Linked DNA regions of Homo sapiens. The protein of the gene in region 2 interacts with the protein of the main gene of each other region in a pairwise test. Each region holds a gene or a part of one and is shown on either strand. Other genes may lie near its edges.

What was found. Proteins that work in one complex are often made in the same cells at the same time.
Region 1: the proteins of GNPDA1 (region 2) and PRTFDC1 interact in binary tests that used the Homo sapiens proteins (3 or more experiments, as listed by UniProt).

The regions. Positions count from the first base shown.
Region 1 is NC_000010.11:24,935,607-24,942,606, forward strand, and holds part of PRTFDC1 (phosphoribosyltransferase domain-containing protein 1), read right to left. Parts: intron 6,831-7,000; coding exon 6,724-6,830; intron 1,762-6,723; coding exon 1,578-1,761; intron 1-1,577. UniProt on the Homo sapiens protein: Has low, barely detectable phosphoribosyltransferase activity (in vitro). Binds GMP, IMP and alpha-D-5-phosphoribosyl 1-pyrophosphate (PRPP). Is not expected to contribute to purine metabolism or GMP salvage.
Region 2 is NC_000005.10:142,009,926-142,017,625, forward strand, and holds the start of GNPDA1 (glucosamine-6-phosphate deaminase 1), read right to left. Parts: upstream 3,103-7,700; 5' UTR 3,070-3,102; exon of another isoform or gene 2,825-3,069; coding exon of another isoform or gene 2,744-2,824; intron 2,415-2,743; exon of another isoform or gene 2,363-2,414; intron 2,117-2,362; coding exon of another isoform or gene 2,111-2,116; coding exon 1,987-2,110; intron 1-1,986. UniProt on the Homo sapiens protein: Catalyzes the reversible conversion of alpha-D-glucosamine 6-phosphate (GlcN-6P) into beta-D-fructose 6-phosphate (Fru-6P) and ammonium ion, a regulatory reaction step in de novo uridine diphosphate-N-acetyl-alpha-D-glucosamine (UDP-GlcNAc) biosynthesis via hexosamine pathway.

The sequences.
Region 1 (7,000 bases), on a different chromosome or scaffold from region 2:
TGTGGGTAAGACTTGTAAACGTGGTGGGAATTCGCACCAAAGATTAGGTGACTAGTCAGATGACTTTGAGTTCATCAAAAGGCAGGTTACCTGGGTGAACATGATCTAATCAGGTGAGCTATAAAAGAAGGGCTAAGATTATTCCGTCAGACTTGAAGAAGCAAACAGCTAATGGTGTTGTGAACGACCTGTGGGGTAATTGATGCAAACACCTGGGGACAACCCCTAGGAGTGGAGAGTCTACCAACTCCAGCCTACAGTCAACAAGGAAATGGGAACTGAGCTTGCCAACAGTCAGTGATCTTGAAAACCTCAGATGATATCAAAATCCCAACTAACACACTGATTTCATCCCTGTAAGGTTCTGAGCTGAAAACTCAGCTACACCATGCTCAGATTTCTGACCTACAGAAACTTTAAGATAATACACGTGTATGTTGGTTTAAGCCACTACGTTTGTGGTGAGTTTGCCACACAGCAATAGAAGGCCAATTCAAAGAGTGATTCATGAATTAAAATGTGTCAAGTTAGTTTAGTCAACGAGAATATTTTCATGGTTTGACTCCAAGAGCTCCTCACCCAATAGTAAGTTATTTTTAATGTTTTACTATGCATTAAATCAAAAAGCATCAAAGAAGTTAACATCATAGAGGGAGGAGGAGGGAGACTAAGGAAACAACAGCTTTTTTTTTTTGGCAAGAGTTTCATTGTCATCCAGGCTGGAGTGCAGTGGTGCCATACAGCTCACTGCAGCCTCTGTCTCCTGGGCTCAAACAATCCTCCCACTTCAGCCTCTTGAGTACCTGGGACCATAGGCACATGCCACCACACTCAGCTAATTTTAAAAATTTTCTTTTTGTATATAGACAGGGACTCACTATGTTGCCCAGGCTGGTCTCGAACTCCTGGCTTCAGGGGATCCTTCTGTCTTGGCCTCCCAAAGTGTTGGGATTATATGCATGAGCCACTGCATCTGGTTAGGAAACATCTTTGGAGAATAATTCCATTAATTCTGCCCAGTGGTGCCCACAGAAAGACAGAATTAATGGAGTAAACTGGTGGAGGGGCCTTCTGCTGGAGCTCCCTGGCCTTGTTTCCTCACACTTGGCAATGTGCTGTCCCTATAGCCTTCCCTTCTTTACTTCCAGGCCACAACTGCAGCCACCCAAGTACTAAGACTCCTCTCTGGGCTGGACACCCTCCCATAGGTCCCCAGGACCCATAGTGACATCCAGAGTAGAAAAAACAAATCAGTGTTCACACTCTGACCACACACAGTTGTGGGGCTGGGCACCAGGATATAACCACTCACTTTATCACCATAAAAGAAAGCACAAATCATTACTGCTGAGTCTTCCCATATATGTGAAAATAGAGAGAAGGTCCCCACCCCACGCCCTAAATAGTATCATTTGAATTCTTATGTTAGGTTGCCGTATTCTTGCAAATTAAAATTACCCTTCATTTTCATCTCCATTTTTAAAAATTGCACTCTTCATTTTCATAACATTATTGATTCTTTTATCCTAAAGCATTGTTAAATGAAATGTCATAAAGCGGAACTTGTAATAACTTACCCTGTAACTTTTTAGTCTGATGAAATCAACCTTCATTGAGACAAATCGATCTGAATTTCGGCTGATGTTCTTAAGGTGTTCTACGAGATCAGCACAGAATTTGTAACCTCCTTTAAGCACACACAGGACCATGATGTCACTATATCCTATGTCTTTCATAATATCCTTGGCCAGCCGCTCAATTCTGAAAGAAGGATAAAAGATATATTAAGGCACAACTACTTCTGAGTATTTATGTTGCTTTAATGAAATGCAAGATGTATTGTACGTATTCGATTACTCAGAGGAATGTGGGGAAAACCTTGGGAAACAGAAACCCACCGATAGAAAAGCTTTGTTAAGGTTGAACATAAGGTGTTCAAAACATACTGCTTTTTTTTTTTTTTTTTTTTAAGATGGAGTCTCACTCTGTTGCCCAGGCTGCAGTGCAGTGGCACGATCTTGGCTCACTGCAACCTCCACCTCCTGGGTTCAAGTGATTCTCCTGCCTCAGCCTCCCAAGTAGCTGGGAATACAGGCGCCTGCCACTATGCTCAGCTAATTTTTGTATTTTTAGTAGAGACGAGGTTTTGCCATGTTGGCCAGGCTGGTCTCGAACTCCTGACTTCAGGTGACCTGGCCACCTTGGCTTCCCAAAGTGCTGGGATTACAGGCATGAGCCACCATGCCTGGCAGTATTTACTGAATTCTAAAGAAGACACACGATCATAAAAAATGTACATCAGAATATCTGGCATGCTCCTTAAAAAGGAACATTTGGGCCAAGAGTGGTGTCTCACACCTGTAATCCCAGCACTTTAAGAAATCCAAGATGGGCAGATCACTTAAGGTCAGGAGTTTGAGACCAGCCTGGCCAACGTGGTGAAACCCCGTCTCTACTAAAAATACAAAAATTAGCCGGGCATGGTGGCGGGTGCCTGTAATCCCAGCTACTCGGGAAGCTGAGGCAGGAGAATCCCTTGAACCAAGGAGGCAGAGGTTGCAATGATCTGAGATTGCACCACTGTACTACTCCAGCCTGCGCGACAGAGCAAGGCTCCTTCTCAAAAAAAAAAAAAGAACATTTGTTTCCAACATGATGAAGTAAGGAGGTGAACACATCCTCTCCAGAAAAGCAACTATAAAACTGGGCAAAACTGCCAAAAACAACCATCTCATCATGTTGGAAATCAACCAAAGGCATACAACAAACTGAGAAGCATTTAATTCTGAAAACCCTGAACACTGGGTGGAAACAGCATGAGTCTGGGGCATTCTTGTGTGGGGATGCTCTTATTACCCCCCAGCCCCTATCCCCAGCTCTGTTGTTCAAACAGGCAGTTCCACCAAGGTGGTGCACTGCCAGAGGGAGCTCACCTGATAGGGAACACTGTAAGCTAAAATGGTCACCTTGGTGGCAGGGCTCCACTATCCTGAGGTGCAGTCACCGCTGAGCAGTGCACTGGCAGGCTGGCTGGGGATTTGATAGGAAGTTCCAGGGAGGAGGTTAGACAGTCATAGAACAGGGGCACACAATAAGTTCTTCATGCATCTCAATTGACCAGAGGCTGTACATATGCACAGCAGAGTGAGTTCAAGCCACCCACACATCCCTGGACAGTGAAGGCTGTGTACATGTGCAGAGAAGGCACAAGAAAGCTCAGGGGAAAGTAAACATCGAAAGATTTGAAAATGGTTGGAAATTTGAATCTACTTTCAAGTCCCCACACACCCCCATCAGCAGAGAGTGGAAGACTTACTGGCTTGACGTATTTGAGCACAACTTCTAACCAATTGTAGGCCAAACACTAAGCTATTCAAACACAGGGTGATCCCTAGTAAGTGAGGCTTAAAAATAAAAACAAGAGAAAAATAAACCTCACAGACATCAGAAGTCACACAGTGAGGTGGGCAGATCTCTTGAGGTCAGGAGTTCAAGATCAGCCTGGCCAACACGGTGAAACCCAATCTCTACTAAAAATACAAAAATTAGCCGGGCTTGGTGGTCTGCGCCTGTAATCCCAGCTACTCAGGAAGCTGAGGCAGGAGAATCACTTGAACCCAGGAGGCGGAGGTTGCAGTAAGCCCAGACTGTGCTATTGCACTCCAGTCTGGGTGATAAGAGTGAAACTCTGACTCAAAAAAAAAAAAAAAAAAAGTAGAATTTCACAGAGTGGAAGACAAAAAAGGAAACAACAACAGCAATGAATAGAAAATAGTTATAAATACGATAGATACTAAACATTATATCAATACTCATTTTAAATATGAATGGTCTAAATATAGCAATTAAAAGACAGACTGTCAGGGTGGATTAAAAAAAGATCTAACTGTATATTGCCCACAAGAAGCTCACTTTATGGCTTACACCTATAATCCCAGCACTTTGGGAGGCCAAGGCAGGCAGATCCCTTCAGGTCAGGAGATCAAGACCATCCTGGCCAACATGGTGAAACCCCATCTCTACTAAAAATACAAAAAATTAGCCAGGTGTGGTGGTGCATGCTTATAATCCCAGCTACTTGGGAGGCTGAGGCAGGAGGTTCACTTGAACCCGGGAGTTGGAGGTTGCAGTGAGCCGAGATTGTGCCACTGCACTCCAGCCAGGGTGACAGAGTGAGACTCTATCTCAAAAAAAAAAAAAAAAAAAAAAGAAAAAGAAACTCACTTTAAATATAAATATAAAAACAGATAGATTAAATGGATGGAGTAAGACATGCCATGCTAACATTAATCAAAAGAAAGTTGGAGTAGCTATTTTAATTTCAGACAGAGCAGACTTCTGAGTGAGGAATATGCAGGGATAAAGAGCATCATTACACAATAATAAGGAGGTCGATTATCCAAAGAGACATAACAATTCCTAATATATATGCTCCTAAAAACAAAGTGTCAAAAACCTAATAGAACTGCAAGGAGAAACAGGCAAATGCACTATTTGGAGACTTTAACATCCCCTCTATCAGTAATTGACAGGTCCAACAGTCAGAGAATCAGTAAGCATATAGTTGAACTGAGAAGCACCATCAACTGACTGGATCTAATTAACACATATACAATACTTCACCCCACAACAGCAGGATACACATTCTTCTTAAAAGATACCAGTAAGAAAATAGTAAGACAAACCATAGGCTGGGAGTAAATATTTGCAAATCATATATCTGATAAAGGACTATTATCCAAAATATATAAAGAACTCTTATAGTTCAATAAGAAGATGAACAATTGAATTTAAAAATTGGCAAAAGACTTGAAAAGACCTCTCTCCAAAGAAGGCTTATGAATAGCTAACAAGTATACTAATGATTAGGAAAATACAAATTAAAACCACGGTGAGATACCATTAGACAGCCACAAGAATGGCTATAATCAAAAGGACAGACAATATTCAATGTTGGCAAGTATGTGGAAAAACTGAAACCTTCATATGCTGCTGGTGGCAATGTAACAAGGTGCAGCCACTTTGGAAAATAATTGGCAGTTTCTTACACTTACCAGAAAACCCAGAATTCCACAATGAGAAATCCATCCAAGAGAAATGAAAAGATATGTCCACACAAAACTTATATGTGAATGTTTATAGAAGCATTTCCACAATAGCCAAAAATGGGACATCCAAATGTACATCAACTGGTCAATCAATAATTAGCTATTGTACGATTTTCTTACGCAAAATGGCCAGAAAAGACAAATTTATAGAAAAAGATGCTGGAAGTGGGAGCAGGGATTGGCTGCAAACAAACTTTTGGGGATGATGGAAATGTAAAACTGGATGGTGCTGATGGTTGCCTGACCATAAAAATTTACTAAAAATCATTTAGTTGTTCACCTGCAATGGGTGAATTTTGTGCAGTAGTATATAAATTAATCTTGTGTGTGTGTGTGTGTGTGTGTGTTTGTGTGTTTGAGACAAGGTCTCGCTCTGTTCCCCAGGCTACAGTGCAGTGGTGTGATCATGGCTCACTGCAGCCTTGACCTCCCAGACTCAAGTGATCCTCTCGCCTTAGCCTCCCTAGTAGCTGGGACTACAGGCCTGTGCTACTATGCCTGACTAATGTTTTTTATTTTTTTGTAGAGACGGGTTCTCACTACATTGCCCAGGCTGGTCTCAAACTCCTGGCTCAAACAGTCCTCTTGCCTCAGCCTCCCAAAGTGCTGGGATTACAGGAACGAGCCACTGTACCCAGCCCTGTAAATTACATCTTAATTTTTTTTTTTTTTGAGACAAGATCTCAGTATTTGAGATTAGCCCAGGTTAGTCTCAAATTTTTGGGTTCAAGTGATCCCCACACTTCAGCCTCTGGAGTAGCCTGGATTACAGGTGCATGCCATAGCCCCTGGCTTATAAATTTATTTCAAAGGTGAAAACGGACATTCTTGGGCCCCACCCTAGAATATCGATTTGAAATTTCTAGACATAAAGCTTAAGAATATGCATTTTAACAAGTTTACTGGATGATTCTCTTGTACAAAGAAAAGGCTTAGGGTAACCCTACCCCCTACCCAGGAGTCAATCATGTTCTGACTGATTTTAAATTAATTTTAAATTAGAAAATTCAGGTAAGAAATGCAAGAATTTGTTTAAATTAGGAGCTTCCCAAACTGGTATTAAGGGAAATCTCTTCTGAGAGTTGTAAATAGGTAAACTGAGTACAAAGTCTCCCTTTGCACAAAAAAAGGTTGCTTTAATTGTTAAAGTCAAGCAGGTTTCTTTTCTGTGTTCTTCTTTTCTTTTGGCTGGAATTTCCATATTTTCAATATGCTAATGTTTGTTTTGATTTGTCAACTGAGAGACAAAAATATGGAAGACACAAAATTTCCAAAGTTTATTTGATCACGGAACGTCCCCCCTCTGTGAGGGTGGGACTTCTTTGCCACGGAAAAGCCATCTTAGGACATTGTTATTTTGAGGCTGTTACTTATAATAGCTTATGTATGTATATCCTTCTTACCATATTACCATACCGCCTGAACAAATGTCCAGGTAAACCATTCAATTTAAGCATACATTCATTTTATTCCAAATTCACTGCCCTATATAAAAGTTCTCTCTACCACTATAAAACGCAGCTCAGGAATAGGGTCCTAAAGTATATTGTGGGATTCACACAAGTGTGGGCCGGCCCAGTGCAGGACCAAGATTGACACAGGAAATCACACTCACCTGTCCACAATGATACCATGAGGGATGAGGACATACTCCAAGTCTCCATAATAGTGCTGTGGGTACGTGAATAAATTCAAGTCATACCCTGGCCAATCATCCATAATCTGCAAATCAAATTATTTTGGTTATGGTATTTTTTCATCAGAAATTTGTTTAAAACATAACAAAAGAGTATCACTTGAGAGGAGAATTCCCTCAACTTATGAAAAGTTTAGTGGAACAAGGTTATTTGTTTCCACAACCTGATACAAGGCGCAGTACTAAAGTGAACAGA
Region 2 (7,700 bases):
CTGAAGAGCTTGGATCTGACTCTGCAATGATGGGAACGAGGGAATGGTTTCAGAAGGCCAGACTCTGACCCATACAGAGGTTGGGTCTCTCCACAGTTAGGAGACAGGATGTTAGCACAGCCTCCGAGGGCCTGAGACATTGGTAGTTTCACAGGCACAGGTGGATACTACTCCCACAAACCTCTAGTGCAGAACTCAGCAAACTTTGGTCCACAGGCCAAATTTGGCCTGCGGCCTTTATTTTTTATTTTTTTAGACAGAGTATCGCTGTCACCCAAGCTGGAGTGCAGTGGCACAATCTCAGCTCACTGTAACCTCTATCTGCTGGGTTCAATTGATTCTCCTGCCTCAGCCTCCTGAGTAGCTGGGATTATAGGTGCCCGCCACCATGCCCAGCTAATTTTTATATTTTTAGTAGAGGCAGGGTTTCACCATGTTGGCCAGGCTGGTCTCAAATTCCTGACTTCAAATGATCGACCCACCTCAGCCTCCCAAAGTGCTGGGATTACAGGCGTGAGCCACCACACCCGGCCCTGTGGCCTGTTTTTATACAGCTTATGAGTTAAGAATGGTTTTCTTTTCTTTCTTTTTTTTTTTTTTTTTGAGACAGAATCTTGCTCTGTCACCTAGGCTGGAGTGCAATTGCACAATCATGGTTCACTGCCTCGACCTCCTGGCCCAAGCAATACTCACACCTCACACCGTAGCCTCCTCAGTAGCTGGGACTACAGGCATGTGCCACCATGCCTAGCTAATTTTTCTATTTTTTGTAGAGATGGGGTTTTGCCATGTTGCCCAGGCTAATCTCAAACTCCTGGGCTCCAGCAATCTGCCTACCTCAGCCTCCCAAAGTGCTGAAATTACAGATATGAGCCACCATGCCTGGCCTGGTTTTTACATTTTTAAATAGTTTTTTTTTTAATTAAAGAAGAATAATATTTTGTGACATGTGAAAATTATATAAGTTCAAACTTCAGTGTCCATACAGTTTTATTGGCATACAACCATACTCATTCACTTATATATTGTCTTTTCTTTTTTTGAGACAGGGTCTCACTGTCACCCAGACTGGAGTACAGTGACACAATCATGGCTCACTGCAGCCTCAATCTACTGGCTCAAGCAATCCACCTACCTCAGCCTCCCAAGAAGCTGGGACTACAGGTGAGCGCCACCATGCCAGGCTAATTATAGCTGCTTTCAAACAACAGAAGGGTTAAGTTGTTGCAACAGAGACTATATGGCTAGTGAAGTCTAACATATTTACTACTGGCCATTTACAGAAAAAGTCTGGACTGCAAGGAAGACCAAAAAAAAAAAAAAAAAGGAAAAAGAACAAGTTTGAAGACCCCTCCAACACACACACACACACATAGACACGCTAATGGATGGGTCAGGTAGGGCCACTAGGGCAAACCCATCCATCTCTGAAAGAAATAATCAGGACATTTGTCTTGAGGAGCTGGGGTCAAAATATCTTTCTGAAAAAGCAACATTTTGATTTTTTCCAAAAGAAATTAGAACTGTTTTTTATTTAGGTCCTGTGTTTAATTAAGCCTTACAGAAAATTACCTAAGTGACTATCTTTTCAATTCTCCCAAGGATGGTACTTAGCTGGTACCCCTCTAGATGCAGAGAAGAGAAATTAATTCATTACATAAAATGAATGCCTTAGGGTATCAGGACTTAATTCTGTTAAGAAACCCTGGTGGACAGGGCTGACTTAGGATGTAGCCTAAAAATCAAATTCTTCCTGCCAACCAAGATCCCTTCTGCTCCAGGATTCTGCAGGGACAGGCAGCGACTAAACCAACCCATAAGGGAAGCTGGGTCCTTTGTATGTGGAAGGGGCAGGAAGGTGCTCTCTCAGCACCAGTACCCCAGAGCCCCCGTGAAGTCCCTTGGCTGAGTGAGCCGGTGTACCTGGCCCCTGTTGCCTACTCTCTCCACCCTTATCCACGGCACCCTCTCCATCCAAGAACGCACCAGTGGGGAGCCCCAGGGTGAAGTACTTCTCTGGCCCTGGGTTAAACTGGATGATGCGGTTCCTGATGTATTTAGCCGCCCACTCGCTCGCCTGAGAATAGTGCTCCAGGATGATGAGCTTCATCTTGTCCTGCAGTGGGGGAGAGGGGATGACAGAAAGGAATCAATGGTAAGGGGCAGAGAAAGAGATGGAGGTGGTGGGAGAAGCTTCTCTTACCCAGCAACAATCCCCTTCCCAAGCTGTCTGAGCCAGGAAAAAGGCCTTTCTATTCACAGAGGAGCTAAGAGGCTAGGCCAGTCGTCTCCACCACCCACAGACCACGAGGAGGCGCCACTGGGGGCAGATCTGGGTTCTAATCTCAGCTCCTTCACTTACCACCTGCAGGACCTCGGTCAAAGGACCTAAGTTCTCTCTGAGCCGTTTCCTCCTATGTAAAAATTGGGACAATAGTACCTACTTCACAGACTTCACGACGGGTAATATGAAATGAGAGAATGCATGTAAACAACTTAGTATTTTCTACGTTGGCTGTTACCATCCAGATAGATGCTCGGCTCAGCCCCGCCTCCCTCATCCCTGCCCCTACCGGAACGGGATACCCTACCCCCTCCCCGCCGTCTACCCCAAGACTCTTCCTCCAGAAGTAGAGAGGTCATGGGATCATGCTGGGCCACTAGAGCAGGTGGGGCAATGAGCTCTGCCTGGGGAGCTGTGTGCTCTCTCTGGACTAGCGGAGGGGTCTTCCTACTGGCCCACCTTGCTTTGCGAACCCCTCTGGGTCTTCAGTTTCCCCCAAAGCACAAAAGGGAAAAGGTAATCGCTCCAGAAGGAGGACATTTTGTTCCCCCAGCACTGCGGTTAGTGGGAGTGTGAAGGAAAGAGGCGAAGGTGGCCCGCGCGGTCGTCGGTGGGGTACAGCGTGTCCCCCACCCCCATTACCACCCCATCGCCCCTCCGATCCCTCCTGGAAAATGTGTGAGGGCGGCTCCCCGGGGTCCCGACCCCGAGTGCCGTAGGGCTGGGGCAGCGCTCCGCGCTCCGGCCCGCGAGGAAGGTCCCCGCCAGCCCTGCTACCCACTTACACGGACGCCTCCCGCGGCGGCTGCAGCGACTGCGCCGGCGGCCCGGCCCCGCGCGGGTCACGTGGCTGCGGGTCACGCGGCGCCGCGTGCGCCGCCCGCCGGGCTGACTCAGCTTGGCCGCAGCTACCCGGACCGACTCTCCCAGGTGGAGGAGTTCCGGCCACTCAGTCCCACCTCGGTCCCTGGCCCCGGCAGGCCCTGGAACAGACCTTAAAAAACACTTTCCCTTGGGAGGCGGGGATTCGAGTCTGGTTTGTGTGTGTGTGTGTGCAAGAGGAGGGAGACTTGAGGGGCGCCGGGTCGCCCCCAGGAATACAACCCCCTGGACCTTGGGGCTGGGGCCGGGGGGTTTTAGTGCAGGGGTTGAGCTGGGGGCAGGCAAAGCAGAATCGCTTCCTCAGTCTCCTAGGGTTGGGCCTGGCTCTGCCTTCAGTTTCTTTCTTTGTTTAGATGCCATTTATTTACCCAAGTATTAAAACTTGTGTTGTTTAAAGTACAATTGGGCTTTTTAATGTCCTTTTTTAAAGATCAAACTTTGCAGCATTATATAATAGAGAAAAAGGCAGGCCCCTGGTTTCCCCAACTCCCCACACCAAGATAACCATTGCTTAGTTTAAGAGTACATTCTGAATTGCTTTCTTTGAATATGCTTACACTGTTATTTTACATAAATGGGAACACATACACATGAGGCTTATATATATCAAGGCTCGGATATTTGACCTGCATTATTTCACTTAATCCTTATTAAGCTCCAGTGAGGTAGGTTTGCCGTTACTTTTTAACAGGTGGAGAAACTGACGCTTGGAGAGAAAAATTAACTTGGCCAGAGGCACAAGTGGTTTCCCTTGTGCCTTCAATTCAGGGGGATCTGTCCAAATCCAAAATCCATGCTTTTTACCGCTAGCGGGCACTGCCTCCCAGCTGGTATGACTGGATTTGGGACGCTTCCATATCAGAAAAAGAGATCCATCTTATTCTTTCCAGTCAACATTAGAGTGTTCCAGACTTCTAGGGACACTTGGGAACTTTCCATGCGGAGGCTGGAGGAAGGACTTGAGTGCTGGTCATCAGTAACATCTTCCATTACATAGGGTTTTGCCAGAGCTTTGTGCGCATTATTTCATAGAATCCCGCCCAATCGTCAGATATGATTACCGCCATTTTATTGATGTGGAAACTGGGGATCAAAGGCGTACAGAGACTTGTGATATATGACCTCATAGTCTGACATCCCGGACTTTAGTCAGTGCTAGGGAGCAGTGGTGAGACCTTCTGAATCAGCCTAGTTTTCCTCCAGCAGCAAAAGGCCAAAGGAATCCTGGCTTTATGCCCACGGGACAGGGCCTTCCTCAGTCAGCCGGGTGGCCACGTTCTGCAATTCTGCTGAATCTGCTCACTGTGGACAGCCCCAGGCGCTCACCCAGCCCTTGGGCCCAACTGCAGCTCCAGACCAGCTTGCTAGGGGTAGGCTTCATCTGGTGAGGCCCTGATGAGACCAGATGGTGGAGCTGATACCTTTACAGTGTGGGGGACTTGCTCTTTGCCTCAGTGTTATTTTGTTTTGTTTTGTTTTGTTTTCCAAATCCTGAGAGGCTGTGAATGGCTCGGTGTTGGTGTAGTTTTTGTTTATTTTTAAATTCAGTCAGAAATCTTTTTTTTTTTTTTTTTGAGATGGAGTCTCGCTCTGTTGCCCAGGCTGGAGTACAGTGGTGTGATCTCTGCTCACTGCAACCTCCGCCTCCCGGGTTCAAGCAGTTCTCCTGCCTCAGCCTCCCGGGTAGCTGGGATTACAGATGCCCACCACCATGCCCAGCTAATTTTTGTACTTTTAATAGAGATGGGGTTTCACCATGCTGGCCAGGCTAGTCGTGAACTCCTGACCTCAGGTGATCTGCCCGCCTTGGCCTCCTAAAGTGCTGGGATTACAGGCATGAGCCACCGCCCCCAGCCAGAAATGTTGTCTCAGCTTGAGGACTGCAGATGTTTCACAATGAAGCTCCAACTCCAATCTCCGATCACGTCTGATAACATGGGCCAGGTCTGCAGCATCTGCATCCAGACCTTTCCAGGAGGAGAGTGACTGACTTCTGGTGACTAAGCCCATTTCCCCTGAGTTACCCCTTCTGCAGGGAACCAGTGCAGGGTCTCTGCGAAGCCTGGAGGCTCTTGGATCAGCGTGGGGACTAATCGGAAAGACCTGCATTTCAATTCTGGTCTGGCTAATTTCTGGTTATTTAGTGAGTAATTCAAGCAAATGACTCAACTTCTCCAGGTCTCAGTTTTCTTACCTGAAACATAAGAATTGAGTGGAAATTAAGTAATACTGCCCTCGTGTGGCTGTTGTGACTATTAAATGAAATATTAGCATAGCATGGCATTCACAGCCAGCTGTTATTACTTACCCCTTATTTCCTCCTAACCCTCCTTACAGCCCACTCTCTAACCATACTGAAATGCTCTCTAGCCCTAACCTCCTGACTCCCTGTACTCCTCCTACTCCACATCTGTGTTTAAACTATTACCCACACCTATCCTCCCATCCTCTTGTCTTGGAACTAAAGTTGCCAAATTAAAAGAATTGTGAGTTTATCCATGCAATGGAACACTCTGCAACTCTTGTATGGTCAGATATTTTTATACCTTCTAATGCACCCTTGCTTTGGGCAAACAACCTGACCAGATGTTACCTCCCAAATTCTGCTCAATTCATAGAGTTTGTGTGGTGCTGGCCCTACCCTTTGACTTAGGAGCAAACCAATTAGAGACTCCATGGCTCTGGCCATGATTAGTTCAAGGCCAGGCAGGCATGGAAGACACTAACCCAGCAGCCATTCAGAGACTCCTTCTCCCTTGCTGCTTCCCACTGGAGAAACTGGAAAGTCAACGACTCTCACAGCTTCTCCCACAGCTACGGGGTGGCCAAGTAACTTCATTCTGCCCAATGAGGGAGGAGGATGGCTTCTGGTTAGATATTTTACTTCCTGAGAAAAGTGCTGTGCTTGAGAAACAAACTGGCGGTTTCTGGTTCCTTCCCTTTCCTTCCTGCCTTGAAGGCAGTTGTGATGACTGAAGCTGGGGAGGCCACGTTGTAACTGTGAGGCACCAAGCATAAGGATAGAGTGGAGGAGGGAAAACACTTATGTCCTTGATATCTGACTAGTGCTGGGACCTCCTACTTCTGGACTTCTTCTAAGTAAATGGTAAATGTCCTTATGGCTTAAACTTTAAATCATTGTTAGGAGAATTTCCTGTGACTTGAAATTGAAAACATGACTCACTGCTAGAGCAGGTGATTCAGATCTTCCTTAGGGTTTATGCCACTACTGGGGGAAAATACACTTCTCCTGAGATCTTGAGCCGTAAAACAGAGGAAAGCTTAGAGCTACAGAAAGGTACAACAAATAGAAGAGAGACACAGAACTCTGATGACATCATTTGAGCCCCCTAGAATAGCATGTCTGAAGCCAAATATACCCTTTTGGGTTTCGTGGTTGAGTGAGTGAATGAGTGAATACATAATTAAATATCATTTTCCCCTGAAGCTAGTTAGAGGAAATTCTGGAAGGATATTTTATTAGTTATCTATTGCTGTGTAACAGATTACCCCAAAACTTAGTGGCTTAAAACAACAATAATGACTTATTTCTCACAGTTTCTGTGGGCTAGAAATTCAGACAGGATACAGTGGCGATGATATCTTGCCCCTCAACTGAAAGACTCAAATTCTGGGGCTGGAATCGTATGAAAGCTCATTGACTCACATGTCTTGACAACAGGTGCTCACTGTCAGTGGAACACTCACACATGGCTCTCCTTGTTGCCTGGGCTTCCTCACAACATAGCGGTGGGTTCCAAGGGCAAGCGTATCAAGAGACAAAGATGGGCTAAGGCTGTATCCTTCTTCTGACCTAGTCTCAGAAGTCATATAGCATCACTTCTGCTGAGCTCTGTGGGTTGGAGAAATCACAAGCCCCTATCCAGATTTAAAAAGAGAAAACATAGACCCCCATCTCTCTGTGTAAGAAGTTCAGTAATATTATAAGAAGAGCATGTTGGACGGGATACATGTACAAGTATGGCCATGTTTAAAAAATACAATCTGCCACAGACACACACTAACTTGTTATTAAGATGTGATCTGGCCAGGAGTGGTGGGTCACACCTGTAATCCCAACACTTTGGGAGGCAGAGGCGGGCAGATCACTTGAACCCAGGAGTTTAAGACCAGCCTGGCCAACATGGTAAAACCCTGTCTCCACTAAAAATACAAAAATTACCCGGGTGTGGTGGCACGTGCCTGTAATCCTAGCTACTCAGGAGGCTGACGCGTGAGAATCGCTTGAACCTGGGAGGTGAAGGTTGCAGTAAGCTGAGATCGCACCACTGCACTGCAGCCTGGGTGACAGAGCAAGACTCTGTCTCAAACAAAACCCCCTGCCCCATTTGGCAAAAAAAAAAAAAAAAAAAAAAAAAATTTAATAAAAAGATTTGATCAAAGTAATTGACCATCTACTCTGTGCTGGTCACTGTGCTAAAAGTTTTTAAAGCATCGTCTCATTGACTCATCATATTTTTTCAAAGTGGGTGCTGCGGGTTGGATACATTCTGCCTAATATTTGTATGAAATG